Linked DNA regions of Homo sapiens. The protein of the gene in region 1 purifies or fractionates together with the protein of each later gene. This does not show direct contact. Each region holds a gene or a part of one and is shown in the gene's direction. Other genes may lie near its edges.

Region 1 (7,671 bases):
AGCTATTGGTATCTAGACTAACTCCATTATCATCAGAAAAGATGAGAAATTAAGACATGGAAGGGTTAATTAACTTGTTCAAGGCCACACAGCCAGCTACGGGTAAGAGTTGGGACCAGATCCCCAGGGCACTCCTTAGTTAAAATGAATAATATATTTCCTGCCATTTATTGGCAACCTCTTTTGTTCATGAGTCTATTTCAGGCATTGTGAGTTCTTTCGCTTTATCTCACAGCTACCCTGCAAAAATGGTATTATCATTCTCATTTTCCAGGTGGGGAAACTGAGACTTGGAAAAGCTGAATAACCTGTCCTGGGTGCAAAGAAGGCTAAGTGGCAAAGCCAGGAATTCAGCTCAGATGGCCCATCTTCAGGCTTTTGTGCCCCTGGATGTCACCTGTGCTCTGTTCCACTGGGCCAGGTTTCTAGGAGGCCAAGTTTAAAGGCTTGAGTCTGCCCTTCTTCCCTAAGCACCCAGGAGAAAGGCATTTCTGACCAGAAGTCTTGGATGCTTTTAGAGACATGTGGTCATCAGCCAGGCACATTTTCCTCCCAGGCCTCTGACTTTCGGGGCCAGCACCCTCCGTTCCCCTCAACATTCATGCCCAGGTGACTGAGAGGTCCATGGCCCCAGGCAGCACTACATGGCCGGGGTGCTCAGCTGACCCACAGGGCTATGCCCTTCGGACAGGCAGCTGTCACTCACCCCTCAGTGCCGGCTCTGCCCAGCAGAACAACAGCCCATGCTAAGCTTGGGGGAGAACGCCCATTGCCTAGACGGCTTCTCACCTGCCTCCCTCTAAGGAGCAGGGTATGAGGAAAGAGGAACAGGTAGAGGGCACTGGGGTCCCTGCAGCTGGGTTCCATTGTGGAGAAACCCTGAGGCTTTGGGGAAGGATTGCAACTGTTCGTCTCAGTGCTGTGACCTTCGCACTGTCACCTGAAGCTGGCAGGCAGGAGCCATGTGTGCTCTGGCTTCATGGCCCTCAGCAGCGTCACTGCTTCCCCTTGTCCAAGCCAAATGACTGTCGTGATGGGGACCATCCAGCCCCAAAACCTTTTCCCCCACTAATCCCTCTGCCTGACAAGCTCTCCACATCTCTGTCTGCTCCTGCCTCCTCCAGGAAGCCTCGCCTGATTGCCTCATTGAGAAAAGCCATGGATTCTGATTCATTCTGGGCTCAATTTCTGGCCCTCTCTCACCTACTTGCTCTGTGATGTCTGCTGTTATCTCACCTCTCTGACCCTCCGTGTTCTCTTTTTGTGATATGGAGCATGAGAGGAGGATACCTCACATAATCCGAGTACCTAACCTGTGTGTTGAGTGCAGTCTCTTATTTAACACACCCTTCCACTCCAGACACTCTTGTGGAAGGATATTTTGATTCTCTTGTCACAGATAAAGGCCCTGGGGCTTTGGGAAGTGAAGTGACATGCCAAAGTTCGTGCATCTGGAAAATAGTAAAGCCGGAATATAAACCCAGGTTTTCCTGTCTCTGACATTCGGCTACAATTACTCTTTCAGTCATTGGCAGTTGAGGAGCTGTTTCCTGACCAAGTGGACAAGGGGCACAGGGGCCAGCCAGATGGAGGTCAGTGACAGTCCTAGGCCGAGGGAAGCTGGCTTCGAGGACACAGCTTTAGGGACTTCCCCAGGGACTCCCCACATCACATCCCACAATGAAATTGACTTCCCCAGACACAGGCAGACTGGAAAACGACATGGGCTTCTCTGCCTACTCCCACCCCTGTGCCCCGCTGTGGATGCCTACCCCTATGAAACCCACAACATGGAGACACAGAGGAGTCACCTTCCATGCAGGTTGCCTCTGAAGGAGGAGAAGGGCTGTGGTGACCATATCCATCCAGTTCCTTCTCCCAGACTCCCTGTTGGAGGAGTCCACCATAGCAAGGAAGATTCGGAGGAGAGTGCTCGTTATTAATGCTGTAGGTGCTCAAGAATTGTGACTTTCTCTCCCTCGCTTTTTCCTTTCTCATAAAGAGCATTGCTTCAGGGCTGTGGCCATAAAGAAGGTGGCCCAACTGTCTCAGGGTCAAAGCCGGTTTTTAATCATGATGCCATTGCCGGTTCCCAGTGCCACATTCCCCTGTTGTGGTTAGAAATGGAATAATAGCTCTCTCTCTCTCTTTTACCCTGGACTAGGGTTTGGTCATTGAGCACCTGGGACGGAGACCCCTCCTCATTGGTGGCTTTGGGCTCATGGGCCTCTTCTTTGGGACCCTCACCATCACGCTGACCCTGCAGGTGAGACGATGTTCTTGTCACATTTGAGGGAGATAAGCATGGAGCTGACTTCTGGCTTCATCGTTTTGGGGCCTTTGATTTGTGGGTTCATACTTCTACAGAAAACACTTGTGATAAAGCTCTCCCCGGGGACATCTCATCTCTGGAGCTGCTGAGGGTCTCAGTGAAGAGGGTTTGGTGAGGGGTCCTTGGACTGGGAGATGAGAGACCTGACTTCTGGTCCTGTCACTCTCACTGATGAGCCGTGTGATCTTGGGCAAGACACTTTCCATCTCTGAGCCTCAGTTCACCCATCTATGGAATAGAAGAGCTTGCACTAGACAACCTTAAGGTGCTCCTTCCAGCTGTCACCTCCCAGCATGAGTGCCAGGTGCTGCATATCAGCCACTTCCCTAGTTGTCACAATTTTAGGAACAGTGGCTCTGGAGCCAGACAGCCTGTGTGGACCCTGGCTTTTCCTTACTTGTAATGAAACTTTAGCAAGTCAGCTCCTCTCCGGGCCTCATCTCTAAAATGAAACAGTCGTCCCTTCATCCAGGGGTGTTGTGGGATGAAATGAGAAAATGCACTGAAAGCACTTGGAACAAGCACTCAGTGGATGTCCATGAAGGAGGAGGGGTGGCGATGTACTTCATCCTTACAACATCAGTATTTTTTTGTTTTATGGAGATAAGGAAACTGAGGGATAAATATAAATAAATAAGCTTCCCAAGGTTACACCACCAAAAGGTGGCAATTAGATCCCCGGATCCTGGGCTTCTGCCCCCTGCATGGCTCAGGGCAGCTTGCATTAACTGAACACTGCCTCAGTACCTCCAACTCATCTTGGTGCCATGGGAAGCGTGAAGCAAGGTTGCAGCAATTGATTAATCTTTGCATTTTTCAAAAATGCATCTGGAAATTGATAGGTGCACATTTTGATCACCTGTCAAATGTCTTAGTGGCCCAAATGTTTCTAGAAGAAGGCACTGTTAGCATGGTGGTGGCTGATGGGTGCCCTTTGAAGAGGTGGGGCTGGCAAGCACGCTGACCGGCAGGAGGTGGAAGCATTGCCTTCAGGGACAATGTGCTGGCAGATGCAGTTCCTTCCTGACAGCCAGGCCCAAGCTGTCCCAAGCTCCAGCATCTTTACAGTCCTTCAAAGTTCTCAGGAAGCCAGTTAGGCGATGTTCCAGGCCATTGTCTTTCTGAAACTTGTGTCCGAAGTTTAAAAGGAAAGCCTGAAGCCCACAAACCCCATCTAAGCCTCATTTCACAAGGTTTCAGAGCTGTTCTTGGCTTGGCCACCCTTGTCTCCTCCAGTGCCCCACACCCTGCCCCCGGCAGCTCCTCAAGGAACCTGGCAGTTTCCTCTCCTAGGGCTCTTCTGTGCTTGGCTAGCTTCTCCTTGCTCTGGACTCAGGAGGCCTTGGACATTCCTGGACACCTCTTCCTGCAGGAAGCCTCCCCTTGCTTCCAAGTCTGGGTGAGGTGCTCTCTCCTGTGTTCCCATAAGCCCCAAGGGGGAACCCTGTGAGATCACTTATCACATACCATTGACTTTCACTGTTGGCACATGTCTCTCTCCAAATAGACAGTGAGTGAGTTGTGTAGGGCAAGGGCCTGGCATGAACCATATCTGCATTTCCACCTCCCATCCCAGTGCCTGGCACCCAGGGGCAGCTCGGATCAATCAGCTGAATTAGTGAGTGAGTGAGTGACTTGGTACAGAAGCAAGCCATACAGTGTACAAGAGTCCATGAAGCTCCTCTCAACCCCTAAAGCTAATGGATTTGGACATAGAACAAGGGGAAGGAGGGAGTTCCCCATTCCTCTGTCTGCCCTCTGTACCCCTCGCCCTCCACTCCAGACTGTTTGCAGCTTACCCCCCCGCCGATGGTGCCCTCTTAGGATTCTATGCCCTTGTGTATGCTGAACCCCCTACTGGAACCTCTTTCCTTTCCTTTCCCACTGGGCTGACTCTGGCTCAGCCTACAGAGATGAACGCAGGCTCTTACCTTCCCTTCAAGTCAGGTGGCCTCTCCTGGGGCAGCCCTGGCACCCCCACAGATTCAGAACTGGTGACACTGTGTTCTAATGCTCAGCTGTCCAGTCTGCTAGAGCAGGAGCAATCCCAACCAGCACCAAGCCACCCACCCCCCGGATGAGTGACAGCTTCTCCAGACATATTCCATGAAATGAATTAACGCATCTCACACCTTGCAAGATGGCAGGGGTACAAATAAGGTCCTTTATGTAATAATATCAGAACTAAGATAACTTCTTTTAAGCAAAATATAGAAGCCTTTAAAATGTATATGAGGAAACATTCATATATATACATATATATATATATATGTATATATATACTTTAAGTTCTGGGATACATGTGCAGAACGTGCAGGTTTGTTACATAGGTATACATGTGCCATGGTGGTTGGCTGCACCCATCAACCCATCATCTACATTAGGTGTTTCTCCTAATGCTATCCCTCCTCCAGCCCCCCACCCCCCAAAACAGGCCCCAGCATGTGATGTTCCCCTCCCTGTGTCCATGTGTTCTCATTGTTCAACTCCCACTTATGAGTGAGACATGTGGGGTTTGGTTTTCGGTTCTTGTGTCAGTTTGCTGAGAATGATGAACTTTTATAAATGTGATAAAGCTGTGAAAATTGCTCATATTGCCTGATGCCAACTAAGCCCTCAATCAATGTGAGTTATTGATTTATTTACCACTTCCTGTATGCCAGGACTATGTCAAACTCATCACAGGCTTCATCTGATTTCATCATGGCTATAAAATAAGCAGATGGAGTGACCGAAGGGTTATCATTGTTCCCATGTTATAGATGCTGAAGCTGGGGCTTGGGGACATCAAGTGACCTGTCCAAGGTCACACAGATGGATGGAGGAGGAGCTGGGGTGGGAACTCAGGTCCTCCGGTCACACCATCACCTCCTCACCTGACCACTCCCTGTTCTCTCCCAGGACCACGCCCCCTGGGTCCCCTACCTGAGTATCGTGGGCATTCTGGCCATCATCGCCTCTTTCTGCAGTGGGCCAGGTAAGGCACCCCACCCTCCCCACTGCCCCGCCCAGGGACTCATGGCATCACCAAGCTGGGGGGCTCTCCTCATACAGATGGGGAACCCAGAGCCCAGAAGAAGCAAAGCCTGACTGGGGATGTGTGTCTGCTGCCTTTCTTTTGGCCCAATTTAAATGTAGCCGACTGTCTGCAGTCTATCCCACAGAAGGTGAAAGTGGACTCACCTGAAGATGAGTGGGAGATAATTTCCCACCACACAGCAAGAGCAGTTCATACGCGGGAGGGCTCTGATCCAGAGGTGACACTGGTTTGTGTTGAATCAAAGACAACCAAGTCACAGTCTGTGCCTAAGCAGTTACCGTCTATGGTGAAAGATGTGGCAATAATCATGTCTAAGACATATTGTTCATTGATTTTGTGTTATACTTGGCTAAGAACTTGACCTGTGTGAGCTCATTTAAGGCTCAGGACAGTGCCAAAGAAGACAGAGATGGAAGGTGACTTGCATGAGCGAGTAGGTGGAGTGGCCTGACTGCCAGGCCCAGGCCCCAACCACCAGCTTACATGGTAGCTGTGTGAGTGTGCAGCTGGAGTATCCCAGCCTCAGTTTACCTGGGACTCACTTCTAGCCCTGCTGTTTCCTAGCCATGGGTCAGTAGGAGAGACTTCTTCTCTTTGTTAGCCTCAGTTTCCCCATCTGTACAACGACAAGGATGCAATGCAACTGAGGACCCTACCATTCCCTGGCCCTGTGTCCACGTCCAGCAGGGACCTCCAGCAGAGTCCAAGGTCAGACTGAGAAGGGGGGCTCAGGGCAGGGTCTGACACAGCCATGTGCTCTCTCATGGGATGATATTCATGGCTGTTCTTTGGTTGTGTTTCTTGGTGGATGCAAACAGTAAGTTTCTATCAGAACAAAGGGAACTGAACTTCTGTTTCTCCCTTTGTGTTGCTGATTCTCGTAAGCCATTACATTCCAGGTTCTATTGCATTCATGGTGGATGGAAAGTGTCCATTCAGGACATCGGGATATTATAATAAGATGGCAAGGTGGCAAGGTGGGCCATGGAATGGTTGGGGAGGGCATCAGGTGCACATACATGCACACAGCACACACACACACACACACACACACACACACACACACACACACACACACAGTGCTATGAGGGTGGTCAGAACGGCTGCAAGAAAAAGAAAGCAAGCACCTCCCAGGCAGGGCAGCGAATTAGAGGATGAACACACAGCACATGTTGTAGTTTACAGTGGACGCGAGGAGTAAATGTGTTTAGTCTTCCAGGGCATCTGCATCACAACCTCACATCCACATCTTCACATCAGTGCTCTGGAGGTGTCCAGCCTACGGCCCTATGCTAGCCTGGGGACATGCGTGAGCAAACCAGACAGGAGCAGTCTCTGCTCCCAGAGGGGCTTGCCTCTGGTGTGGAAGTCCCCTCTGAGATGTCAGCTGCTCAGTGAGGCCTCTCCTGGCCACTTATTCTAAAACCAGCACACACACATTTACTATATACACTCACACACACATGCACACCTACCCTCTATCTCATCACCCATCATAGCATTGTTCACAGGCATGTTGGTTTCCTGCGTACTCATTTGTTTAATGCAGACATGGGAAGATTTTTCCTGCAAAGGGCCAGGTGTAAATACTTTTATTTCACAGACCATGCATTCTCTATCACAACTACTCACCTCTGCCATGGTAGTGTGGACACAGCCATAGATAACGAGTAAATGAATGGACTGCATGGTTGTGTCCCAGTAAAACTTTATTTACAAAAGCAGGCAGTGGGCTGCATGCGGCCTGTGTGCTGCAGTCTGTCTTTAATGTGTGTCTCCTCCAGGCTAGAAAATAAGCTCCATGAAAGGACCTGGTGTGTGGTTCACAATCTTATCCTGATAACCTAGAACTGTGCTGAAGACATAGTAAGGCTCCACAAGTACTTGTTAGAGAGGGAATAAAATAACTGAGCAAAGGCTGGCAGGGAAGATGTGTGCTTTTGTGAGCAGCGTAACACGGGAGCCTGCCCTGGCAGCAGGGTTTTTCAAAACAAACCTTGGAGGAGAGAAGAAGTGGAGAGAGCAGACCCCTTTTCCTGCAATATCCCTGAGCTCCAGGGAAGAGGCAGCTGGGGCTTAATGATATCAGAAAAATATGAAGGTGGCACTAGCCAATTGCATGGAGCAAAAGGATTAGTCAAGCTAATACCAAGATTCTTTTCAGAGAAAGAACAAATATAAGGTTGAATTCCATTCTTATCAATTTCTCAAGCCTTTATTGAGCACCTGTTGTATGCCAAGCTGGAGGGAGAGGAGAGCAGGGGTAGGCAGGAGGAAGATAAAATAGAACCATATTTTT
Region 2 (7,671 bases), on another chromosome or scaffold:
AGAGGCACATGCCACCACGCCCAGCTAAATTTTTGTATTTTTGGTAGAGATAGGGTTTTGCCATGTTGCCCAGGCTGGTCTCGAACTTCTGGGCTCAAGTGATCCACCCACTGCCACCTCCCAAAGTGCTGGGATTACAGGCGTGAGCCACCACACCTGGCCTGTTTTATTTTTTTTAAATAGGATCTTAACACAATTTTATATTTAAAAAATACTGATAGCTTCTTAATATCATTTAAATATCTAGTCAGATTTTAGATTTCTCTGATTGTGTCATGAATTTTTCTAGTTTGTTTGAATCAGGATTCAACTTGCATCAGCTCCCTTTCCATCTGTTCCAAAGTTATTTCCTTGCTGTTATTTCTTGAGGTAACAGGTAATTTTCTGTACTTTTTCATGTTTTGAATTTGATTGCTTGTGTCGCCACATGCTTTTTGTTAACATGTTCTTTAGTCTTCACACTTCTCCTCCCATATTTCTTATAAGTTGGTAGTTAGATGTAGAGGTTTAGTCACTTTCAGGCTTTTTTGTGGGGGATAGGGCAGGGATGGCAAGAATACATTATAAGTATTGTTCTGTATTGTATGACGTGCACACATGCAATGTGACACACAATGTCTGGTTGTCTCTTTTTCTCTTTTTTAAATTATACTTTAAGTTCTAGGGTACATGTGCACAATGTGCAGATTTGTTACATATGTATAATTGTGCCATGTTGATTGGCTGCACCAATTAACTTGTTATTTGCATTAGGTATTTCTCCTAATGCTATCCCTCCCCCATTCCACCACCCCACGGCAGGCCCCGGTGTGTGATGTTCCCCACCATGTGTCCAAGTGTTCTCATTGTTCGATTCCCACCTATGAGTGAGAATGTGCGGTGTTTGGTTTTCCGTCCTTGCGATAGTATGCTCAGAATGATGGTTTCCAGCTTCATCCATGTCCCTACAAAAGGACGTGAACTCATCCTTTTTTATGGCTGCATAGTATTGCATGGTGTATATGTGCCACATTTTCTTAATCCAGTCTATCGTTGATGGACATTTGGGTTGGTTCCAAGTCTTTGCTATTGTGAATAGCGCCACAATAAACATACGTGTGCCTGTGTCTTTATAGTAGCATGATTTATAATCCTTTGGGTATATAACCAGTAATGGGATGGCTGGGTCAAATGGTATTTCTAGTTCTAGATCCTTGAGGAATCGCCACACTGTCTTCCACAATGGTTGAACCAGTTTACAGTCCCACCAACAGTGTAAAAGCATTCCTATTTCTCCACATCCTCTCCAGCACCTGTTGTTTCCTGACTTTTTAATGGTCGCCATTCTAACTGGTGTGAGATGGTATCTCATTGTGGTTTTGATTTGCATCTCTCTGATAGCCAGTGATGATGAGCATTTTTTCATGTGTCTGCTGGCTGCATAAATGTCTTCTTTTGAGAAGCGTCTGTTCATGTCCTTTGCCCACTTTTTGATAGGGTTGTTTGATTTTTTCTTGTGATTTTGTTTAACTTCTTTGTAGATTCTGGATATTAGCCCTTTGTCAGATGAGTAGATTGCAAAAATTTTCTCCCATTCTGTAGGTTGCCTATTCACTCTCATGGTAGTTTTCTTTTGCTGTACAGAAGCTCTTTAGTTTAATTAGCTCCCATTTGTCAATTTTGGCTTTTGTTGCCATTGCTTTTAGTGTTTTAGTCATGAAGTCTTTGCCCATACCTATGTCCTGAATGGTACTGCCTAGGTTTTCTTCTAGGGTTTTTATGGTTTTAGGTCTAACATTTAAGTCTTTAATCCATCTTGAATTAATTTTTGTATAAGGTGTAAGGAAGGGATCCAGTTTCAGCTTTCTACATATGGCTAGCTAGTTTTCCCAGCACCATTTATTCAATAGGAATCCTTTCGCCATTTCTTGTTTTTGTCAGGTTTGTCAAAGATCAGATGGTTGTAGATGTGTGGTGTTATTTCTGAGAGCCCTATTCTGTTCCGTTGGTCTATATCTCTGTTTTCGTACCAGTACCATGCTGTTTTGGTTACTGTAGCCTTGTAGTATAGTTTGAAGTCAGGTAGCATGATGCCTCCAGCTTTGTTCTTTTGGCTTAGGACTGTCTCGGCAATGCGGGCTTTTTTTTGGTTCCAAATGAACTTTAAAGTAGTTTTTTTCCAATTCTGTGAAGAAAGTCATTGGTAGCTTGATGGAGATGGCATTGAATCTATCAATTACCTTGGACAGTATGGCCATTTTCACGATATTGATTCTTCCTATCCACGAGCATGGAATGTTCTTCTATTTGTTTGTGTCCTCTTATTTTGTTGAGCAGTGGTTTGTAGTTCTTCTTGAAGAAGTCCTTCACATGCCTTGTAAGTTGGATTCCTAGGTATTTTATTCTCTTTGTAGCAGTTGTGAATGGGAGTTCACTTATGATTTGGCTGTTTGTCTATTACTGATGTATAGGAATGCTTGTGATTTTTGCACATTAATTTTGTATTCTGAGACTTTGCTGAAGTTGCTTATCAGCTTAAGGAGATTTTGGGCTGAGATGATGGGGTTTTCTAAATGTACAATCATGTCATCTGCAAACAGGGACAATTTGACTTCCTCTTTCATTTTTTTTTTTTTTTTTTTTTTTTTTGGAGACAGAGTCTTGCTCTGTCGCCCAGGTTGGAGTGCAGTGGCGTGATCTTGGGTCACTGCAAGCTCTGCTTCCTGGGTTCACACCATTCTCCTGCCTCAGCCTCCTGAGTAGCTGGGACTACAGGCACCCGCCACCATGCCCGGCTAATTTTTTTTTGTATTTTTAGTAGAGACAGGGTTTCACCGTGTTAGCCAGGATGGTCTCGATCTCCTGATCTTGTGATCCACCCGCCTTGGCCTCCCAAAGTGCTGGGATTACAGGCATGAGCCACCGCGCCTGGCCGACTTCCTCTTTTCCTAATTGAATACCATTTATTTCTTTCTCTTGCCTGATTGCCCTGGCCGGAACTTCCAACACTATGTTGAATAGGAGTGGTGAGAGAGGGTATCCCTGTCTTGTGCCAGTTTTCAAAGGGAATGCTTCCAGTTTTTGCCCATTCAGTATGATATTGGTTGTGAGTTTGTCATAAATAGCACTTTTTATTTTGAGATATGTCCCATCAATACCTAGTTTATTGAGAGTTTTTAGGATGAAGGGCTGTTGAATTTTGTCGAAGGCCTTTTCTGCATCTATTGAGATAATCATGTGGTTTTTATCTTTGGGTCTGTTTATGTGATGGATTACGTTCATTGATTTGCGTATGTTGAACCAGCCTTGCATCCCAGGAATGAAGCCCACTTGATCATGGCAGATAAGCTTTTTGATGTGCTTCTGGATTCGGTTTGTTTGCCAGTATTTTATTGAGGATTTTCGCATTGATGTTCATCAGGGATATTGGTCTAAATCCCTGATTGTTCATCAGGGATATTGGTCTCTTTTTTTGTTGTATCTCTGCGAGGCTTTGGTATCAGGATGATGCTGGCCTCATAAAAGGATTTAGGGAGGATTCCCTCTTTTTCTATTGATTGGAATAGTTTCAGAAGGAATGGTACCAGCTCCTCTTTGTACCTCTGATAGAATTCGGCTGTGAATCTGTTTGGTCTGGGACTTTTTTTGATTGGTAAGCTATTGATTATTGCCTCAATTTCAGAGCCTGTTACTGGTCTCTTCAGAGATTCAGCTTCTAACTGGTTTAGTCTTGGGAGGGTGTATGTGTCCAGGAATTTATCCATTTCTTGTAGATTTTCTAGTTTATATGCTTAGAAGTGTTTACAGTGTTCTCTGATGTTGGTTTGTATTTCTGTGGGATTGGTGGTGATACTCCTTATCATTTTTTATTGTGTCTGTTTGATTCTTCTCTTTTCTTCTTTATTAGTCTTGCTAGTGGTCTGTCACTTTTGTTGATCTTTTCAAAAAACCAGCTCCTGGATTCATTGATTTTTTGAAGGGTTTTTTTGTGTCTCTGTCTCCTTCAGTTCTGCTCTGATCTTAGTTACTTCTTGCCTTCTGCTAGCTTTGGAATGTGTTTGCTCTTCCTTCTCTAGTTCTTTTAATTGTAATGTAAGGGTGTTGATTTTAGATCTTTCCTGCTTTCTCTTGTGGACATTTAGTGCTATAAATTTCCCTCTACACACTGCTTTAAATGTGTCCCAGAGACTCTGGTACATTGTGTCTTTGTTCTCATTGGTTTCTTTTTCTGTGGCTAAGATTGATGAGTGATCTATCAAATTTCCTCAGCAGCTTTTCTCTTATTTTAACAGCTGTTGATCATCATTTGCCTAGATCCATTATTTGATCAGGAGTTACACAATGATGGCATTCTAATTCTGTTATTCCTTTTGCATTTATTAGCTGAAATTCTTCTATAAAGAAGACATCTCCCTCCTTAGCTATTTGATAACATTAAAATATAATTCATATGGGAAAGGGAAGATAATATTTAAATTCTTTACCTTAGTCTATTACTTTTAAAGGTCTATTGTATATTTAAGCGTTTTGTATCATATTCACCCATTGTTATAAAATTAAGTATGAATTGAGTCTGTTTTGGTTTCTGTATTGAAAATAATAGAAAGTTCTTATTATCAGATATAATCTAACATAATCCTCATTATATGATGTGCCTCAAGAAGAGTTATGATAATGTAAAACTGAGTGAACATAGACTCCACACTAAGGTTCAAACTGCTAAATGATTATTAGTAAAGTTATAATTGGAGTGATTATATTCCAATATGAATTTGGGGAAAATACATTTTAATTTTTATTTATTTATTTTTCTACAGCTTTTGGACTTCTTGGATCAGCATCCTTTTTCATTTACTCCTCTAATTCAGAGATCACTGGAATTTTCTGTAAGCTATGTTTTTACAGAAGTTGGTGAAGGCGTTACATTTGAACGATTCATTGTCCAATGTATGAATCTTATTAAGATGATTGTCAAAAATTATGCTTATAAGCCATCCAAAAATTTTGAAGGTAATTCCTTTATTGGCAGTTTAAAAGAATTATTTTAATCTTAAGTGTGATATAATTGCTATAATTACAAACTTTTTAAAAAATGTCATTTTAGTCTGAAAAATAAATTGTTGCTGGGACATGAAAAAGATATAAGGATTATAGGCTTTAGTATGTTTATACTAGCTTTTAAAAACAACATAGTGCATTTAATAAGCCATTTTTTGTAGCACAAATTGGTTGAAGCTTAGGGACTTTAAGAATTAGGTACTATAGTCATCACTGCAGCTCATATTGTAGGGTGTATTCATTTGAACAAATAAAAGCTTTCTCTGACTTTATATAAAGTGTGATTGTTTCTAGACAGGTTAAATTGTTGTATTATTTGGAATTCATTCATATGCGTGTGTGCCAAGATGAATGAAGAAGTCTTGGTGGTGGGGGAGAGAGAAACACATGCACACACCCCCCACACCCTCTACATTATGAGGAAGTTATTTCAGTATGCCGTGATGGTATTGCATGGTAATATATAAGCTGTAATGCCAGAGGCAAGATTGATGTGAGTGTGTTGTAAGGAAAGAGTATCTTTGAGATTTGTTTATAATAAAAATGAAAATTTATACACAAGTGTATCTTCTTCCCTGAGAGTGTATTTTTTATTTATTTAAGTTACATAATCCAATGTAGCTACAATGTTTGGCTATACAATTAACTTGGAAATTTCATTTTTCTAGATAGCAGCCCTGAAACTCTTGAAGCCCATAAGATTAAGATGGCATTCTTCACATATCCTACTTTGACAGAGATATGTAGAAGATTAGTCTCTCATTATTTCCTATTAACTGAAGAAGAACTGACAATGTGGGAAGAAGACCCAGAAGGCTTTAGTAAGAATTAATTTTTTAGTGTTAGAATGACTTTTCTCCCCTTTCTATAAATATCTGTTTGAGTGATAGGTATAATATTGTATTTTCATACAGCACTTTTGATCTGGAAATCTTGGTGTTTTAAAATTAACTTACTCTTTCGTTGTTATCCATTAGAACAAATTGAGAAGCAGAAAATGAATGACTTATGCAAATATGTTGTAGAATTTTGTCCAGGAAAAGACCTTTTTAGTTTTTGGATTCCTTTACAAATATATCATGTAGTTTCAAACAAAAATATAAAATTAACTCTCTCTTACCCTGTCAGTTTCTATTTTGTGATTCATTCCATGTTATTTTTTATTTGTAGAAATTCTTGCAAAGAAATTTGGAGGTTTTTGATGAATAGTTTTTTTTTTTTTTTTGGACAGGACATCTTTATATCTGTTTGAATTTTAGTACTAGATAGATAAGTAGAATAAGTCTGTTGGGACCCTTGCTATAGAAAATCAAGGAATCATGTGTCTAATAAAGTACTTACTTGTATGTGAATTACTTAAGCTATGGTGGGACATAGGCTAGATTTTAGCCTCCCTTTTCTCTTTGGTTGTGTACCCTTGTGTAGTTACACGTTTCCTAATATTTTAAGAGTGCCCAAAAGTTTTTGTAATACTTATCTTCGCCATGCTTTTGGTTTTTAAAAGTAATTTTAGTTTTAATACAGGATTGTACTGTACAACATGTCTTTTCTTGTTTTTTTTTTTGCTTTTTTTGAAACATCTTTTTTCAATTTGCTTTCTTTATATAGTACATACAACATTGTAACATAAAGTGTTGAGTCCCTAAATTTTTAAGAGCCCTGAAGTATTTTTCTTTAAATTCAAGAAATTTATGGAGAGTGTGAGTAATCATTGTACCTAGTGAAACATGATTACTGTATTGAAATGAAATGATTCTCAGAATTCTAGTGATATTGGATCAGGTGATAGCAGATACCCTGGAAATGACAACTACTTTGAGCTTTTTTCCATAAAGAATTTTTATCGAAAATGAGAATGCTTATGGATATAGTAAGCACTTAATAGACGACTGTGAGATACACAACTGTGATCTGTAGCATATAGTAACAAAATCTGTGTAAGGCCTGTGTTCCCAAGGCTTTGCTCTTAATGTTATGTTTAAAAGAGTTCACAAAAATATTATACTGATGTTATTAAAATCTTTGTTTTCTAAACCAAGATGTTGAAAATGTCATTATTACATATTTTTAATTGCAGCAGTGGAAGAAACAGGAGGAGATTCTTGGAAATATAGTTTGAGGGTAAGTATTAATTGCAAGAAAAATTGATAGGGGAAAGCTTAATCTTTCTAAAGCTCTTAGTAGAGAATGACACTCTATTAAAGATTCCAGACATTTGCTGGGCATGGTGGCTCACACTTTAATCCTAGCACTTTGGGAAGCCAAGGTGGGAGGATCGCTTGAGGCCAGAAATTCAAGACCGGCCTGGTAAACATAGTGAGACCCTGTCTCTGCAAAAAGTAAAAAAAGGAAAAAAAAATTAGACCAGAGTGGTGGCGCATACCTGTAGTCCCAACTCTTCAGGAATCTGAGGCAGGAGGATTGTTTGAGCCCAGGAGGTTGAGGCTGCCGTGTGCCATGATGATGCCACTGCGTTCTAGCCTGGATTACAAAGCAAAACCCGTCTCTTAAAAAAAAAAAAAAAAAAATTAAAGATTCCCAACATTAAGTCAGACAGATAAGAAACTGTTTATAAGAAACTAAGAACTATATTCATATTAAATTATGACGTTTAATCTGAGTTTTTTTTCTTTT
Region 3 (7,671 bases), on another chromosome or scaffold:
ATTTCTCTTCTTTAGGCTGCGATGGATAGTGCTCGGCTTAGTGCTGCCAAATCTTCTCCAATGATGGAAACAATCAACATGGTGAGTGTCTTAAATAATAATGAGAGGGTTTGTTTGCTTACCTGAAAGTGTAATTCTTCAAAGTCTTCAGGCTATGTTAAATGAAGCAGAGACTTATGGGATGAGTCAAGCAGCTGTTGTGACTCCAGTTTTTTCTTAGTATATTTCTCTTTTCTTCTCTGTTACTAAGTGGAATAAATAATTCCCCAAATACCAGAAACAGTTGGTCCAAATTTGTATTACAAGAGACAACAACATATCAAGAGCTCTCTATAAATTTACATCTGTAGTCTTTTGATCTGCCTATTTAGAAAGGTTCAGAGTTGTGCCTGTGCCTAATAGTTATCTTTGGGAGGAACTAGGAAAGTTATAAGCTGTGGAGGTATTTAATGAAGTAGGTAACATAAAGGTATGTGAAGAGATTGGGCAATGTCGATATGTTGTTTTAGTCATAGGAAGGCATTTGCAGTAAAGGGCTGCTTGGCATTCTGAGGTTCTGATTTCTAAACTTCCTGGAGTCTTGGTAAAGTTACTCTGTTGTGCATTCCCTGTAATGGTTAGTTAGCTATGATTGTGTTTACTGGAAATTAGTTTGCTAAGCAGATCTGTACCTTTAGCAGGACTCTGAAGGTATAGATCCAACCCCTAAAAAAACTGAAGTGTACAAAAAACTATGTTAAACTGGTGAAGAGAAGTAGCTATTTTTTAGTGCCTGCTGGGGGAGTATTACCAAAATTTGGTCTAAGAATGTTATGTCTTAGTTGGATTATTGGGGGGAAATAAAAATTTAAAGAAATAGGAATAGTTAGTGAATACCATTTAGTTATATTCATTAGTAATAGAAAACATGTTAATTGCATTTTCAAAAATAAAGGCCAGCAATTTATAGGAAAAGTCATCTAAGAAGTTGACTCATTAGAGGGGGTTTGGTAGGGTAGGCCCACTGTAGAAGATCAATATTTAGTTTAGGTTTTTTATACTAAACATGGATTGATAAAGAGGAAGTAGGCCCAGAAAGATTCTTCATTCTTGAGTAATCATTATTTTTCTTTTTTAGCAAATTGATGTTTTTCATTTTTTTGTTTGTTTTTAGTGTTGAATCACTGATGAATAATTTTTCTGTTTGTAGTACAATAGTGGTTTTAATATTGAAATCAGAGCAGAAGCAAGCAGTGATTTTTCAACTTCATGTCAAATCCAGTTGGTACACGTTTGACAAGGGCAGTTTTTAATTGAAGATGTGGTCCTGACTTATTTGCCAAGGCTTACCTTTATATTTGTCCTTTTTCAAAAGTGCCTGCAATACCTTGATGTGTCAGTGCTGGGCGAGCTAGTTCCTAGGTTGTGTGAACTGATCAGAAGTGGTGTAGGTCTTGGAACTAAGGTAAGTGTACTTTCCACAAGAGGAAATGTGCATCTTCATTAGTTCTGGCCATAAGGATATAACAGCCATCATGTTTGAAATTCATGTTTTACCACAAAATCTAATATTATACACTAACCATTTTATTTCTGTGGTTGCACTGATAACTGAAAACATGTAACTGGTTCAAGAAATAAAACATCTAACTGTTCCAGTAAGTATTAACTTATTTAGTGGAATCATTTCTGTTCTCTGGTTGCCGTGTACATACCCTCTGGGTTGTCATTCATTAGCAGTTCATGGAAATGCACATCCAGTTATTAGGGCATGGATTGTTTTAGGTGGCAATTGCATTTTTCACAGAGGGGTCAGCAGTGTTTGAATAGAAAAATGTCCTAGTTTTCAAGATCTTTGAAGGATCAGACACCCCCCTACCACCCTTTTAACAACAAATTAATAACTCACATTTTTTCTTATGACAAAATTAACACTTGCTGGTATTTTAAAATTTTAGCATTTATAGATTAGGAGAAAGTTAAAATAAAAATTGTCCAGAATTTTGCCATACAGAGATAACTGCTGTTAATATTTTGAAGTGTTTCCTTCCAGTCTTTTCTGCACATGTATCTTCTGCAGTGTCCTCTTCTAATGGCCGTATGATACTCCACTGTATGGATGTAACATCATTTATTTTACTCCATCAAGGAACATCTGATTTGTTTTCAGTTTTTGAAAAAAATAGTAAAGCACTGTGATGAGTGTCTTCAGGCACACCTGAAGATATTTGGTTAAATTTCTGGAAATGGAAATGTTAGCACAGTGATGGACAAGATGACATATTTTGCTTTTCCAGAAGATTGTACCAGTTTTCTTTCTTTTTCACAATGTCTGAGATCACCCATCTTTCTCTTGGAGGTTTAAAAAAAATCGCTGCATTACTAGTTTAAGAGTTTGCCTTTTTCTATATTGAGTCCTGGAGGGGGTATTAGGCTTCATGTATTTTATATGTTTAAATTTTTGGCACCTAAGCCAATGGTTTGGTAGGTAGAACATTGTGACCATCAGATTTAGACCTTTGCTTTTGTAACCCTGTAGGGTGGCTGTGCCAGTGTCATTGTGTCATTAACTACTCAGTGTCCTCAGGACCTAACACCTTACTCAGGTGAGTTTGTCAAGGGATGTGTGGTGATATTTTTGCACAGCCCTGTCTTGTGTGACAGAGTTTTAAAAAGGAAAAATACTTATCATTCAGACCTGCTTGTGATGCTGTGTGCCTTTTCTCCCCTCAGTCCCCTGACTCCTTCATTTCTTTGTCTGCAGGAGGTGCAGAGTTTATCAAGTTTAGCAGCTTTTCACTGTTCATAAACATTTGATTATTCCTTAGTGGTATAAGGAGGTAAAAGTATCCTCTTTTCCACAGGACTTACCATTGATAGCTGATTTTACATCAGCATTTTTCTCTTCTTAGATTGGCTTCTAGACTGGACTAGTGTTCTTTATATACCTCGTTCTTATTTTGCATCTTTTTCCACGATATTCTAGTTTAATTTTAACTTTATATCATGTAAAAGGAAGCAAATGGATATATAAATATAACATCCAGAAATCTAAACTACTGTGGAGTAAATCAGATGTTAATTACAGGGTTAGGTTTGTTTGGGTTCTGGGAACAGAGTGGAACATTTGGTCAACCAAGTATCAGATTTTTTTCTCTTTATTTCTGGTAGGTAAACTTATGAGTGCTTTGCTGAGTGGCCTGACAGATCGGAACAGTGTGATTCAGAAATCTTGTGCATTTGCTATGGGCCATTTAGTTCGGGTGAGTTAAATTTCTTGCTTAGTTAAATAAAACTCTTTGACAGTTATAAAGAAATACTTAGGATTGTTTCTTTTTCAGACCTCACGGGATAGCAGCACTGAAAAACTCCTGCAGAAGCTCAATGGGTGGTATATGGAGAAAGAAGGTACCTTTCTTTTTCTATTTTATGTCATTTTAAATTTAGATGTTAACAGCCCAGTAAAACAGTACAAATTAGGTCTTACCCTCCATGATTTTATGTGATTTGCTAGAAACATTTGTTTCTTTTCTTTTCTTTTTTTTTGAGATGGTGTCTGGCTTTGTCGCTGAGGTTGGAGTGCAGTGGTGCTATCTCAGCTCACTGCAACCTCAGCCTCCTGGGCTCAAGCGATTCTTGTGTCTCAGCCTCCTGAGTAGCTGGAACTACAGGCACGTGCCACCACGCCTGGTTAATTTTTGTATTTTTTGTATAGGTGGGGTTTCGCCATGTTGCCCAGGCTGGTCTTAAACTCCCGAGCTCAAGCTATCTGCTCACCTTGGCCTCTCAAAGTGCTGGGATTACAGGTGTAAGCCACCACAACCCAGCCTGCTAGAAACATTTCTAATTGATTTTACCTGTTTGTTTTGCTATTATATGAGTTGAACAATAGCCTGTTTAGATCAGTTACCCTTAAAAACAATAAATATCGTAAAGATTTTGGTTTCTCCTTTTCAGAACCTATCTACAAGACCTCTTGTGCTTTGACTATTCATGCTATTGGACGATACAGCCCTGATGTATTAAAGAATCATGCAAAAGAAGTCCTGCCTCTGGCATTTTTAGGCATGCATGAAATTGCTGATGAGGAGAAATCCGAAAAAGAAGAATGTAATTTATGGACCGAAGTGTGGCAGGAAAACGTACCTGGTTAGTAGTGTGGCCTGAGTTAAACCTGCTTCTTAGGAATCACAGCTAGAATTTTTTACTTGCATTCGTTATTCATAAACTCCTCTGAAGTTACTTTCCCAGGACCTTAATATGCATCCCATTTAGTTTTAAACCCATCCAAATTGCTCATCCCATTTAGTTTTGAACCCATCCAAATTGCTGAGTTCTCAAGGTTGGCACTCAGGATTTTTGTCTTTACTCATTCATCACTGCCCACATGAGAGAATATAAACCCTGTGAGCAAGGAGAGCTTTACATTTTTAATTAAGAGTGTGATTTTATGTGGCCTTAGAGTATTTTAGAGTAGTTTTCTAAATGTGTTTTTCACCTTGTCGCATATTAATTGATGATGCCCATTTGTGTGATACGTTCCTGTGGGCACCCAAGTTCGTAAAGTTCTACTATTGTGAGAATAAGTCACAACACCAACACACTTTCTCTCCCTTTGAGAGAGTGGTGTGTTTTAACAGTTGAGAGTCACTGCTTTTAGACTGTTGGTCACTGACTTTTTTTCAGGTTTAGAAAAATCAGTTAATTTTTCTTGTCACTTAAAAGTTGTTTTAATTTTGCTTTCCTAGGATCCTTTGGTGGCATTCGATTATACCTGCAGGAGTTAATTACTATTACCCAGAAGGCTTTGCAGTCTCAGTCCTGGAAAATGAAAGCCCAGGGTGCAATTGCCATGGCATCAATTGCAAAACAGACTAGCTCTCTAGTACCTCCATATCTCGGAATGATACTGACCGCATTGCTGCAAGGCCTGGCTGGAAGAACGTGGGCAGGAAAGGTAAAGGAACCATTCATACCCAGTTAAAGGGATTCTGACTTCATCTTTCATTTTGCATAATAGTAACGATCTGGTTTTGTGTAACTTTTCCAATGGATTATTTTTGTGAACTAGATTTCCTAGACAGTGGAAGCTTTGGGTAAACCTTGCCTGATTAACTGTGGTATTTCCTCTCAAACTGCAACCCGTGTGGCCTTGCATAATGGACAGTAATGCTGGAGATAGATACATTTTCCATATTCAGCCTTCCAAGTTACGTCTTAAACCAACTTGTCAGCATTTTGTACCTGTTGACCTCATGAACAGATCAGGATTGGGCATAGAAAGATCAGGATTGGGCATATGTGAAATAGAGTAGCAAGGTAGCCTGCCTCTAAACCTGGGGCTGAAGATGCCCATCTCTGGGACCTATGAATTAGTAACAGTTATTTTTTTACACAAGAGCTTTAGTAGGATTCTTAACAGTGAACACTCAGTGGGGAACATGAGATTGTGGTAACCTAATGATCTTTATGTTGTAAAGGTCAATAGTGGCCCATGCAGGAATGAAGTAGTACCGGACTGGGAGTCAGACATCATTCCAATTCTGTGGTTGACACTGTTTTCTGTGAGACCTGGGTCGAATCAGTTCTTTAGGCTTCTATGAAATGGAGGTGAAGATAATTATCCTACATCCATGGTTTGGAGTAAAACTTGGTGGATGTGCTTAAAATTATGCATTAAAGATAAGGTGACTGTTGTTAATTTTTGTTGTCATAGTTATCAAAAATTCCTAAGGTAATTGTAATCATGGTTTAGACAGTGTAAATGACATGTTTGGGCTTAATAGTATTTCCTCATCTTTCAACCCCTTAGGAGGAGCTATTGAAAGCCATTGCCTGTGTGGTGACAGCTTGCAGGTAAATGTTCTTTCAATGAAGATGCCATTTCTTAAACTGGACCCGAAAACTGCAGCCTTTATTAACTTCTGATGCTTTTGTATGGACCCTGTAGTGCAGAGCTGGAAAAGTCTGTGCCCAATCAACCCAGCACAAATGAAATTCTTCAAGCTGTTCTGAAGGAATGTAGCAAAGAGAATGTCAAATACAAGATTGTAGCAATCAGCTGTGCAGCTGATATCTTGAAGGCCACCAAAGAGGACAGATTCCAGGAGTTCTCTAACATTGTCATACCTCTCATCAAGAAGGTAATACCACCTGTATCCTCAGTTCTGGTTTATACTTTAAAAAGAAAAAGTTAAAAAATTGTTTTCCCCTATGTCCTGATTATTAGGATTAGTTTAGCTGCAAGTAGCAGAGAAATTCCAAAATACGGCCTTAAACAAGATAGTCAATGCTATGTTTCTCACAAAGCGTTGGGAGCATCACAAAGTGTTCAGGTATTCCGTCTCTTTACAGCTCTGAACTCTGCCATTTCTAGGGTGTGGTCATCATCCTCATGGTCCACAGTGTGTTTGTGTTCTAGGCAGGAATGCAGAGGAGATGAAGCAAGGATGAAGGATACAGTGGGCATGCCATGTCTCTCTTGAGGAGAGTTCCTGGGCACCGCTAGATGGCACTTTGACTTATAGCCATCCTGTTGGTCAGTACTTAGCCACACCTGGCAGCAGACTGAGTCTTCATTCTGGGTGTCCATTTGCCCTCCATGGGAGAAGGGGAGAGTGGATTTGGTAGTGAATGAACAGTTTATGTCATAATAAGCTTTGCCTTGGCTAATAAGCTAAGCCACCCCAGCCATCCTAGAGTAAAGGCAAGAAGCTCAGTGTGCCATGTGAATTGCCTCTGCCATATAGTGGAGGATTTGGGTCAAAAAAAGACTCAAGTTTCATGTGGAAAATGGAATACTCATTTTTAAAAGTTGGGCACTGGTCCCCCCCCCAAAAAAAAGGGTGTGGTTTCCCTGTTTATTTGTGAAACATGAAATATTTTAAGTAACATTCTTATTTCTTATTGCTCCTAAATTGCAGTTGTTTTCTTTCAGTAATAAGGCTATTTAAATAATTTCCATTACAAACATAGTGATAGCATATGGATTTGGGAGACTTGTGTTTTAAGTTGATTACATCACTAGCAAGCTGGACCAGTTGCTTCTCTTAGCCTCTGTTTCTCTATCAAGAAAGAGTTTGGATTTAGATCATTACTGAGTTTCTTCCATCTTTAAAATCTGATTCTAATGCAAGTCTTTTCATGTTATGCTCAAAAGACTACATATGCAGTATTTTTTAGCTTTTGTTTACAGATGCCTGTAAAGTATTGCCTAAATTTATTAGAGATACAGTATTCTGGTTATAAATTCTTGTTGTAAATAGGGAAACTTATGGTAGAGAATTTATCATTTAACTCTTGGTTAATATCTCCTGCCTTGGTTGGTACCCTGATAGCTTTAATAGTATACCTGTAACTTTGAAGAAGAAAATATTACATTTTCTTTTCTTTGATATATCCTAGAACTCACTTGAAAGCAGTGGGGTCCGGACAACCAAAAATGAAGAGGAGAATGAAAAGGAAAAGGAGCTCCAGCTGGAATATCTGCTGGGTGCCTTTGAAAGCCTGGGCAAAGCCTGGCCGCGAAACGCGGAGACCCAACGTAAGCACCAGAAACTGCATTTGAAGTGCTGTAACCAGAGGTTACTTAATGAGAGCGAAGAATTTTCTCTATGACAAATTATAGTTATTGTTTCTTATCGAGCCTGATTGATTAATAATGAGAATTATCCAGTGAAAGTTTTTTGTCTA
Region 4 (7,671 bases), on another chromosome or scaffold:
CAAGTGTACCAGTTTCTTTTTTTTTTTTTCTTTTTCCTTTTTTTTTTTTTTTTTTGGAGATGGAGTTTCCCTCTTATTGCCCAGGCTGGAGTGTAATGGTGCGATTCCGACTCAGCACAACCTCCGCCTGCTGGGTTCAAGCGATTCTCCTGCCTTAGCTTCCCGAGTAGCTGGGATTATAGGCATGTGCCACCACGCCTGGCTAATTTTGTATTTTTAGTAGAGACAGGGTTTCTCCATGTTGGTCAGGTTGGTCTCAAACTCCCGACCTCAGGTGATCTGTCCGCGTCCGCCTCCCAAAGTGCTGGGAGCATAGGTGTGAGCCACTGCGCCCAGCTTTATGTGGTTTTTTTTTTTTTTTTTTTTAAGGTGTACCAGTTTCTGATTTTTTGTTTTCATCTTCAAATAAAACTTAAAAATAGTACTTTATGTTTTACCAATTTAATGAATGCTTTTTTCAATTTGTTATTTGTTGAAATGTTGTTTTGGTTGTGATGTTGTATGGTTTTGAAATACTCATTTTTATGTTGTCAGTTTTTACCTTCATATTATGTTTGATATACAGGTTATATTTTAATTTTTGTTAATTTTATATTTAATCCTAACTCAAGACTCATAATTCACTAGCTTGTTAGAAAGGATAAATTATTTTTCCAGAATTTCGAAATGGCTAAAATAGTCATATTATCCTTTAATGTTAATGTTCTGTAATAGCTATCAAGATTGATTTAGAGCATTGTTATGAGAATGAAACAGAATTAGGCCTTGGTATTTTAAGTGAAAAGCTTTTTAATTTGGGCCATATTTTTGGACAGGAAACCATTTTTGGTGCCTATATGATGTATGATGTCAAGTTTTAAGAGTTTGCCATATGTCTGTTAAGATAATACAAGGCGTTTAACTAGGAAGAGTTGCCGTTTTTAGATAGTTTTTCCCCATTATCTGTAGGAACTATAAATAAAAGACAGTTAAAAAAACTTTTAGAACTTTTGCTTTTGTAAAAAACCAGAAGTCTTTCATCTGATGATGAGACATTTAAGTTGGCATTAGAAAATTTTGTAATACTTTATGTAACCAATTACAGATTTTTTTGGACACTGAGATTCTGCTTCTGTAGGTACTGTTTACCGACAGTAAAATATAAATTCTTAGATCTAGATATCAAAAATTATTTAAGTTGAGATTACTATTTTTGCACAGCAAATTCAACTTTGCAAAAATGAATTTGAAAGGAAAAACTTTAAGAAATTTCTTGTCAATTTGTAGATGTCAGATTCTCATTACAAAATTATTATAATATTCTAATTTTTAAAAATTAGGTTTATTTCACTCCTTATTGTCCCTCAGGGGGCGATAATGAGGGTAAAATGAGATAAATATAGATATACTTTCAAAAATGTTATACACACTCAAATTATAAATGAGTTGAGCACCGGGCACAGTGGCTCACACCTGTAATCCCAGCACTTTGGGAGGCCGAGGCGGGTGGATCACCTGAGGTCAGGAGTTCGAGACTAGCCTGACCAACATGGAGAAACCCCATCTCTACTAAAAATACAAAATTAGCCGGGTGTGGTGGTGCATGCCTGTAATCCCAGCTACTTGGGAGCAGAGGCAGGACAATCGCTTGAACCTGGGAGGCCGAGGTTGCAGTGAGCTAAGATCGCGCCATTGCACTCCAGCCTGGTCAACAAGAGCGAAACTCCATCTCAAAAAAAAAAAAAAAAAAAGCTGAACGTGGAGAAAGCCCAGCTATGAAAACCTAAATTTGCAAAACAAAATTAAGATTGTTTTTACATGAAGATTCATTTTATGAGAATATTCACTTCAGAGTTTCTGTGATGTGATTTTTTCATGGGTCTTAAATTATATATCTATTCCAGAAGATACAGTTTATGTACAACTTTTCAGGAGAACATATGTGAAGACAGCATACTTAAGATATAGCTGTTGTTCCACATACATACATTATAGGTCCTCGATAAATTATTAAAAGGTTGATTTTTTTAGAGCCCCTATTATGATAGGCATAATATCTTATATTACAGCAATAGACTTTTGCTTATTAGTGCAATTTGATAAACCATTGATAGTAGCTAAAATTTTTTCTTCCCTCTCTCTTCCAGTCTATATTATTTATTTTGTCAATCAGAGGATCCCAAAAGTTTTTGATTCACAAGTCTGACTTTTCATGAAAGTTGCACTTTGGCCAGAGGAATACCTCCAGTTCTATGTTCTATTTATTAAGCAGGCAGGGCCAAACAACTTAATGGATATTTGTCTTCACAGCCTACTATGTATTTCAAAGACAATAGTATGCATAAAGTAAAAGAAAAATAATGTTTTTATTTTATTCTTTACCGCAATTACTTACCACTGGGATGCGTGTGCCTATTAGAAACTGCACACAGCTTCTTAGATCTTGGAATTGAATACTGTCCCCCTCATTCCTGTACTTCATTGATTTTCATTCAGTACTTGGTTTTTTATCATAGCAACTACCAAAACCCAGCTTTGCGGAGATAATTATGTCATTGAAGGGAATGTAGTGTGATTTATTTGAAACCATGAGCAATCTTTTGAGGTATCCAACAGATGTATCTCCCTCTGAATTTTGCCTCAGAATTTTTTCAGGGCACCCTCATGAGTTTGCTACAGCATTCTGGGGTACTTTGATGCAGTTTTTGGGAATTGTGGCCATGTTGCCATAAGTATTTATTGAACACCTACTATGTGCCCTGCAATATGGACGTGATCTTTATCAAGAAAGACCTGGTCATTACTGTCTTCAAGCTTACAGTCTATAGGAGATACTGATATTAAACAAGTAAATAGAAATATGCTGAGTTTTGTGAAAGAAAATCACATTACAGGGGTACCTAATCCAGTTAGGGGGAGATACTATAAATGTGATTTTCTGGGTTCATAATGCATATGTTTCATAAATGTTAATATGTTGGTTGTTTCAGTCATTCCTTCTTAAAGTCACTTTTATAGAATACATTTAAATCTGAAAATTCTTATCTGTTAAATTGAAATTTATCTCATTAGGTTGATTAACTCACTGCTTGATTATTTGGTGTAAAGAGTAGTGAGAAATAGTTCATATGTAGTTTTCAAACAGTAGAGATTTTCACTTTTGTGAGTAATTAGAAAAATAAAACCGTATGAGACTTAGATTGTTTTTATTGTGTTGATTAGAGTATCAGTTACATTTAAATCTACGAACAGTTAGGCCTCTCAGTACTAGAACGTCTCTGAAAAATATAACTGATGAACAGAAGTATAAATTACGCTTTTGGAGGGGGATTAAAAAAGCGTAAGTTATATTCTGTAAAAATGTTAAAGAAATTATCACCTAGAGGAACTCTAAATCTTTGCATATTTCTTTTGTAGCAGCTGTGTTGAGAACAAAACACATCAATGTGAATTGCAGTACTGATAACTAGAAGGGCAAGTTTAAGTCACTTACCCAAGATATTTTAGTCCTGAGGATTCAGAGATGGAACTCAAAAGGAGTTGAACTCCATAAGAGCCTGGGTCCTAATACCTGCTCTATAGCTCTGGGATGTTTAAAAAGTGATCACACATATGAATTCTAAACAATATTTTAAACAGAAGTTTTCTCCTAATCACAGGTGTTCTTTAAAGAAATTTTCTTATACATTTTGGAAACTTCTACCAGCTCATTTGATCACAAATGGATGGTTATTCAGACACTGACGAGGATTTGTGCAGGTATTTTAAATTATCCTTTTTATTATCTCTTTCTTATTATTAGATATTTAAAAGGCCAAATGTACTCATATCCTAGATGTACTTTGTTGAAATTAATGTTATATTGTTACAGATGCTCAGAGTGTAGTGGATATTTATGTAAACTATGACTGTGACTTAAATGCAGCCAATATATTTGAAAGACTAGTAAATGATCTATCAAAAATTGCTCAAGGAAGGGGCAGTCAAGAACTTGGTATGAGTAATGTTCAGGTAAGAACTATAAAAACATTTTCAAATTTAAACTTTACCAGGAAAGAGTCATGTGTTTTCCTTAAAAGACCTTTAAAAAAAATTTTGTTTTTGAATTACTTTGTAGGAATTGAGCCTGAGGAAAAAAGGTTTAGAATGCTTAGTGTCGATTTTGAAGTGTATGGTTGAATGGAGTAAGGATCAGTATGTGAATCCCAACTCCCAGACAACTCTTGGTAAGGTGATATTTTGAGCTGTAATTCTTTGTCATTTTAAGTGAATAATACTTTGGAGGATAGTTGCAGCTGCTGTTAAACCAATTTCATGACATATTTATTCATTTAACTGATGAGGAAACATTCTCTGTGAGTTAAATGTCTAGCTTTAAAATTGTGAGATTTTTAACTTAGTTATCCAAACTATTTTTTTCTAAATCTTCTTAGAAATATTTTGATTATGTAAAATGAAGCATATTTATGCAACTTTCTTGTATTATAATTATAGAGGAAACATATAAAAGGCAGTATGTTTTAAGAAGGTTGAATTGTTCATCTGTGTTTGATGTTTACCCTCACTCAGAGAAAAACTCATAGCTGCAGGGCTACACTGGTATTATCGAAAACAATTCCTCATGAGGAGTGAGCTGAGAGCAGAAATCCAGTGGATACTCAGCACTGCAACTGCAAAAAGAACTCCTCCTAATGGTGCAGACTATACACGTACAAATTACAGTGTGTTTTAATATCAAAGTATGTTGTTTACTATGTTACCTAATAGTTATTTTGTATTAAATAGATATCTAAGCAACATTGAAACGCCTTGCCTTATTCAAGAATTTGTTTGCCCTTACACTTTTTTTTTTCTTTGATAGAATAATGTACTCTATCAATTTTTCTTCTTTCAGGTCAGGAAAAACCCTCAGAGCAAGAGATGAGTGAAATCAAACACCCTGAGACAATAAACAGATACGGAAGTTTAAATTCCCTGGAGTCAACATCATCATCAGGAATAGGCAGCTACAGTACACAGATGTCTGGCACTGATAATCCAGAACAATTTGAGGTCCTAAAGCAACAAAAAGAAATAATAGAACAAGGGATAGATTTGTAAGTGTCATAGCTTAAGGAGAAATGTTATTGAATATCTCTCTGCCAGTATAGTGCCACCCCTGCCGTGGGTTTATCACCTTATAATGAGTAAAATGGAGGATAGTTCTCATGGATCTAATTCACGAGGCTCCTATTCAGCCCCCCTTGTTCATTGCAGTCTAGCCCAACTAGATTCCTGTAATGCCCAACCACTCTTGTCATATAAATTAATTTGTCACCATATTATAAGTGCTGTTGATGGGTATCATCTGTGCAATTTTGCACTGTTTAGCTCATGACATCCCCCCATTATATTTTCTAATCATGTGACAACTCAAAACATTTAAAATATGAAACTTCTAATAGCTATCAGTACTCCTTTATAGGTCTTACATTTTTTCCAGCTGGCTTACAAATGTACTATTCTTGTTATTGATTTCATTTTTATATGTTGATGAGGTGATCACCTCTCTTCCAGCCTGGCTAGTGTACCGGATCCTAATCTTGTGAAGTCAGTTTTCCCACTAAGCTTTGTGATACCTGCCTGCTCCTGGACTATTTCCTTTGTGAATGTCACCATGCTGCCTTCCTTTCTCTTGTTGCCCATCTCTTTTTTTCAAAGAGATGCCATAAGGAAAAATGAAATTGTTTGCCGTCTCCATGAATCTAACTATTATAAACTTAAAAATTCCCCTGTGTGCTTACTTGGTTTGCTACTTCTGTAAAGCATTTCTTCCTGATACTTAAGCAGTGCCTTTTAGTGAATGTTCAGGTGTCTTTTTTCTCCAGTGTTAATATGAAAAACAGTTCAACAAAAATGTACACATATTCTATTTTAAAATTACAAAATCTTACCAAATTGCCTCAGGAAATAGCTGTCACTACTGCATTAATTCTAATTGTTCAGTCAATATTTATTAAAGTCTCATCTTTCCAGATATTATGCAAGATCCTGGGGAAACTAGATACATGGAAAAGCCCTTCCTTCTGAGAGGCTCTTGGTCTAGTGTGTGTAAACAAATATGCATATTGAAATTCTGCTGGTCACCCAGTAAACACATATTTGGTACTTGGGACTATTGCCAAGCACCATGAAGGCATTGGTCCTTGTATTCAAGATTGCATTCTAAACATGAGCAATTTTTAAAAATAGTACTGTGTAAATGTTTATAAAAGAGTGTCGTACAGAGTAAGTACTGCCAAGGTACTTATTTTGAAGTACTTGAGAAATGAGAAGGAGTAGTCAGAGGGCTTCGAAGTGGAAGTCTCCCAGTCCTTCTCTCAGCAGCTAGACTTGCTTTCTACTTAATACAGCCATTGATGAGAATGCTTTCATGGAACTGTATTCCTAGTATACTTGTCTACAACTGTTTCATGACACCAGTCTATCCTGTTTCTCTCCTACCTTTTTGACTATGCCGTCTCAGTCTTGTGGGCTGTTTTTTCTTTCTTCCTGCGTGCATCTTAGCATTGCCAGCGTTCTGTTCCTCAGCCCTTTTCCAACATCAGCCCCTTAGTTCTCCTACCCAAAACAAAAGACAAATAGAGAAGCCTGTTATTTTTGTATTTCTTATTTATGGTAGTAACCCCAGCATGCTACTAAATTTATAAGCTAAAATCCTGGGAGTTAGCTTAGATTTTCCCCTCAAAGGATTAGATTCTCGAATCTAATCTGTCACTAAGACTTGTTGATTATACTTCCTAATATCCCTGCAATCTGTACTCTTTTCTCGATCTCCCACCACTATTCTTGCAAATCAAATCATGATTATTTATTTCCTCAACTAGTATAATCTTTCAATTGGCTTACCTTTTTCTTTGGTTTTGTTCATTCTTCAGTCTTTTCCCATGCTTAACTAGAGTAACCTTTCTTGAATGAAAGTCTATTTTTTCCCTCTCTTAGAGAATAAAACCAAAGCTGCTTTGAAGGTATGATAATACCTTCATGATTTGGATCTGCTGGACTCTAAGCTTCATTTCCTGCCACTTTTCTGTCTCACCTCACTTTCCAACAATGCAGAACTATTTATTATATAATACTGTCTTGTGCTTTTGTGTTTTAGTATGGCTTCTTCCTCTCTTGCATGTTTTTTCTTATTGTTTATAAAAGATATAATTGTTCTTCAAAATAGTTCCAGAGTCACCTTTCCCAGGAAATATATTATGACCATCTAAGTTAGTTACTTCTACTGTGTTATTTTCTTACCTTGTGAATACATCTATTTGTCACAGTTTTAGTATTATAATTCTTTAAAATTGTGTTTCTTCCATTACAGTGAGAGCTTCTAGGGGTAGGGGGATTATGTTTAGCTTAGTGAAAAGTGTTTCATTTTATGAATGTTAAGTGGTTATGGTTGGATGAGAACTTGACAAGGGAACCTTTAGGAAGAGCATCCCAGACTAAGAGAATGGCATGTGCAGCAGCAGAGGAAAGGGAGGACATCTGAGCACTTGTTCAGCATGGCAGGCTAGAGTGGAGGGGGAATAACAGGAGGTAAGATTAGAGCATTGGGTTGGATCTAAATTACAGAAGGCCTTATTCTCCATGTAAAGGACTTTTTGTTGTCTTGTTCCTCTTGGCGCTAGCGTGCTAGTGAAGGACTTTAAGCAGAGG

What was found.
Region 2: the proteins of SLC2A9 (region 1) and IPO11 purify together in Homo sapiens (affinity purification with mass spectrometry; 2 studies listed by BioGRID and IntAct, with this or other methods). This does not show direct contact.
Region 3: the proteins of SLC2A9 (region 1) and ECPAS purify together in Homo sapiens (affinity purification with mass spectrometry; 2 studies listed by BioGRID and IntAct, with this or other methods). This does not show direct contact.
Region 4: the proteins of SLC2A9 (region 1) and ARFGEF1 purify together in Homo sapiens (affinity purification with mass spectrometry; 2 studies listed by BioGRID and IntAct, with this or other methods). This does not show direct contact.

Annotation. Positions count from the first base shown.
Region 1 is NC_000004.12:9,885,205-9,892,875, reverse strand, and holds part of SLC2A9 (solute carrier family 2, facilitated glucose transporter member 9), read left to right. Parts: intron 1-2,164; coding exon 2,165-2,266; intron 2,267-5,233; coding exon 5,234-5,309; intron 5,310-5,973; coding exon of another isoform or gene 5,974-6,116; exon of another isoform or gene 6,117-7,671. UniProt on the Homo sapiens protein: High-capacity urate transporter, which may play a role in the urate reabsorption by proximal tubules. May have a residual high-affinity, low-capacity glucose and fructose transporter activity. Transports urate at rates 45- to 60-fold faster than glucose.
Region 2 is NC_000005.10:62,478,305-62,485,975, forward strand, and holds part of IPO11 (importin-11), read left to right. Parts: intron 1-4,796; coding exon 4,797-4,989; intron 4,990-5,705; coding exon 5,706-5,858; intron 5,859-7,114; coding exon 7,115-7,158; intron 7,159-7,671. UniProt on the Homo sapiens protein: Functions in nuclear protein import as nuclear transport receptor. Serves as receptor for nuclear localization signals (NLS) in cargo substrates.
Region 3 is NC_000009.12:111,368,886-111,376,556, reverse strand, and holds part of ECPAS (proteasome adapter and scaffold protein ECM29), read left to right. Parts: intron 1-15; coding exon 16-81; intron 82-1,354; coding exon 1,355-1,444; intron 1,445-2,518; coding exon 2,519-2,585; intron 2,586-3,150; coding exon 3,151-3,242; intron 3,243-3,320; coding exon 3,321-3,387; intron 3,388-3,936; coding exon 3,937-4,128; intron 4,129-4,727; coding exon 4,728-4,936; intron 4,937-5,791; coding exon 5,792-5,835; intron 5,836-5,929; coding exon 5,930-6,122; intron 6,123-7,383; coding exon 7,384-7,522; intron 7,523-7,671. UniProt on the Homo sapiens protein: Adapter/scaffolding protein that binds to the 26S proteasome, motor proteins and other compartment specific proteins. May couple the proteasome to different compartments including endosome, endoplasmic reticulum and centrosome.
Region 4 is NC_000008.11:67,263,410-67,271,080, reverse strand, and holds part of ARFGEF1 (brefeldin A-inhibited guanine nucleotide-exchange protein 1), read left to right. Parts: intron 1-3,638; coding exon 3,639-3,738; intron 3,739-3,850; coding exon 3,851-3,990; intron 3,991-4,096; coding exon 4,097-4,205; intron 4,206-4,873; coding exon 4,874-5,075; intron 5,076-7,671. UniProt on the Homo sapiens protein: Promotes guanine-nucleotide exchange on ARF1 and ARF3. Promotes the activation of ARF1/ARF3 through replacement of GDP with GTP. Involved in vesicular trafficking.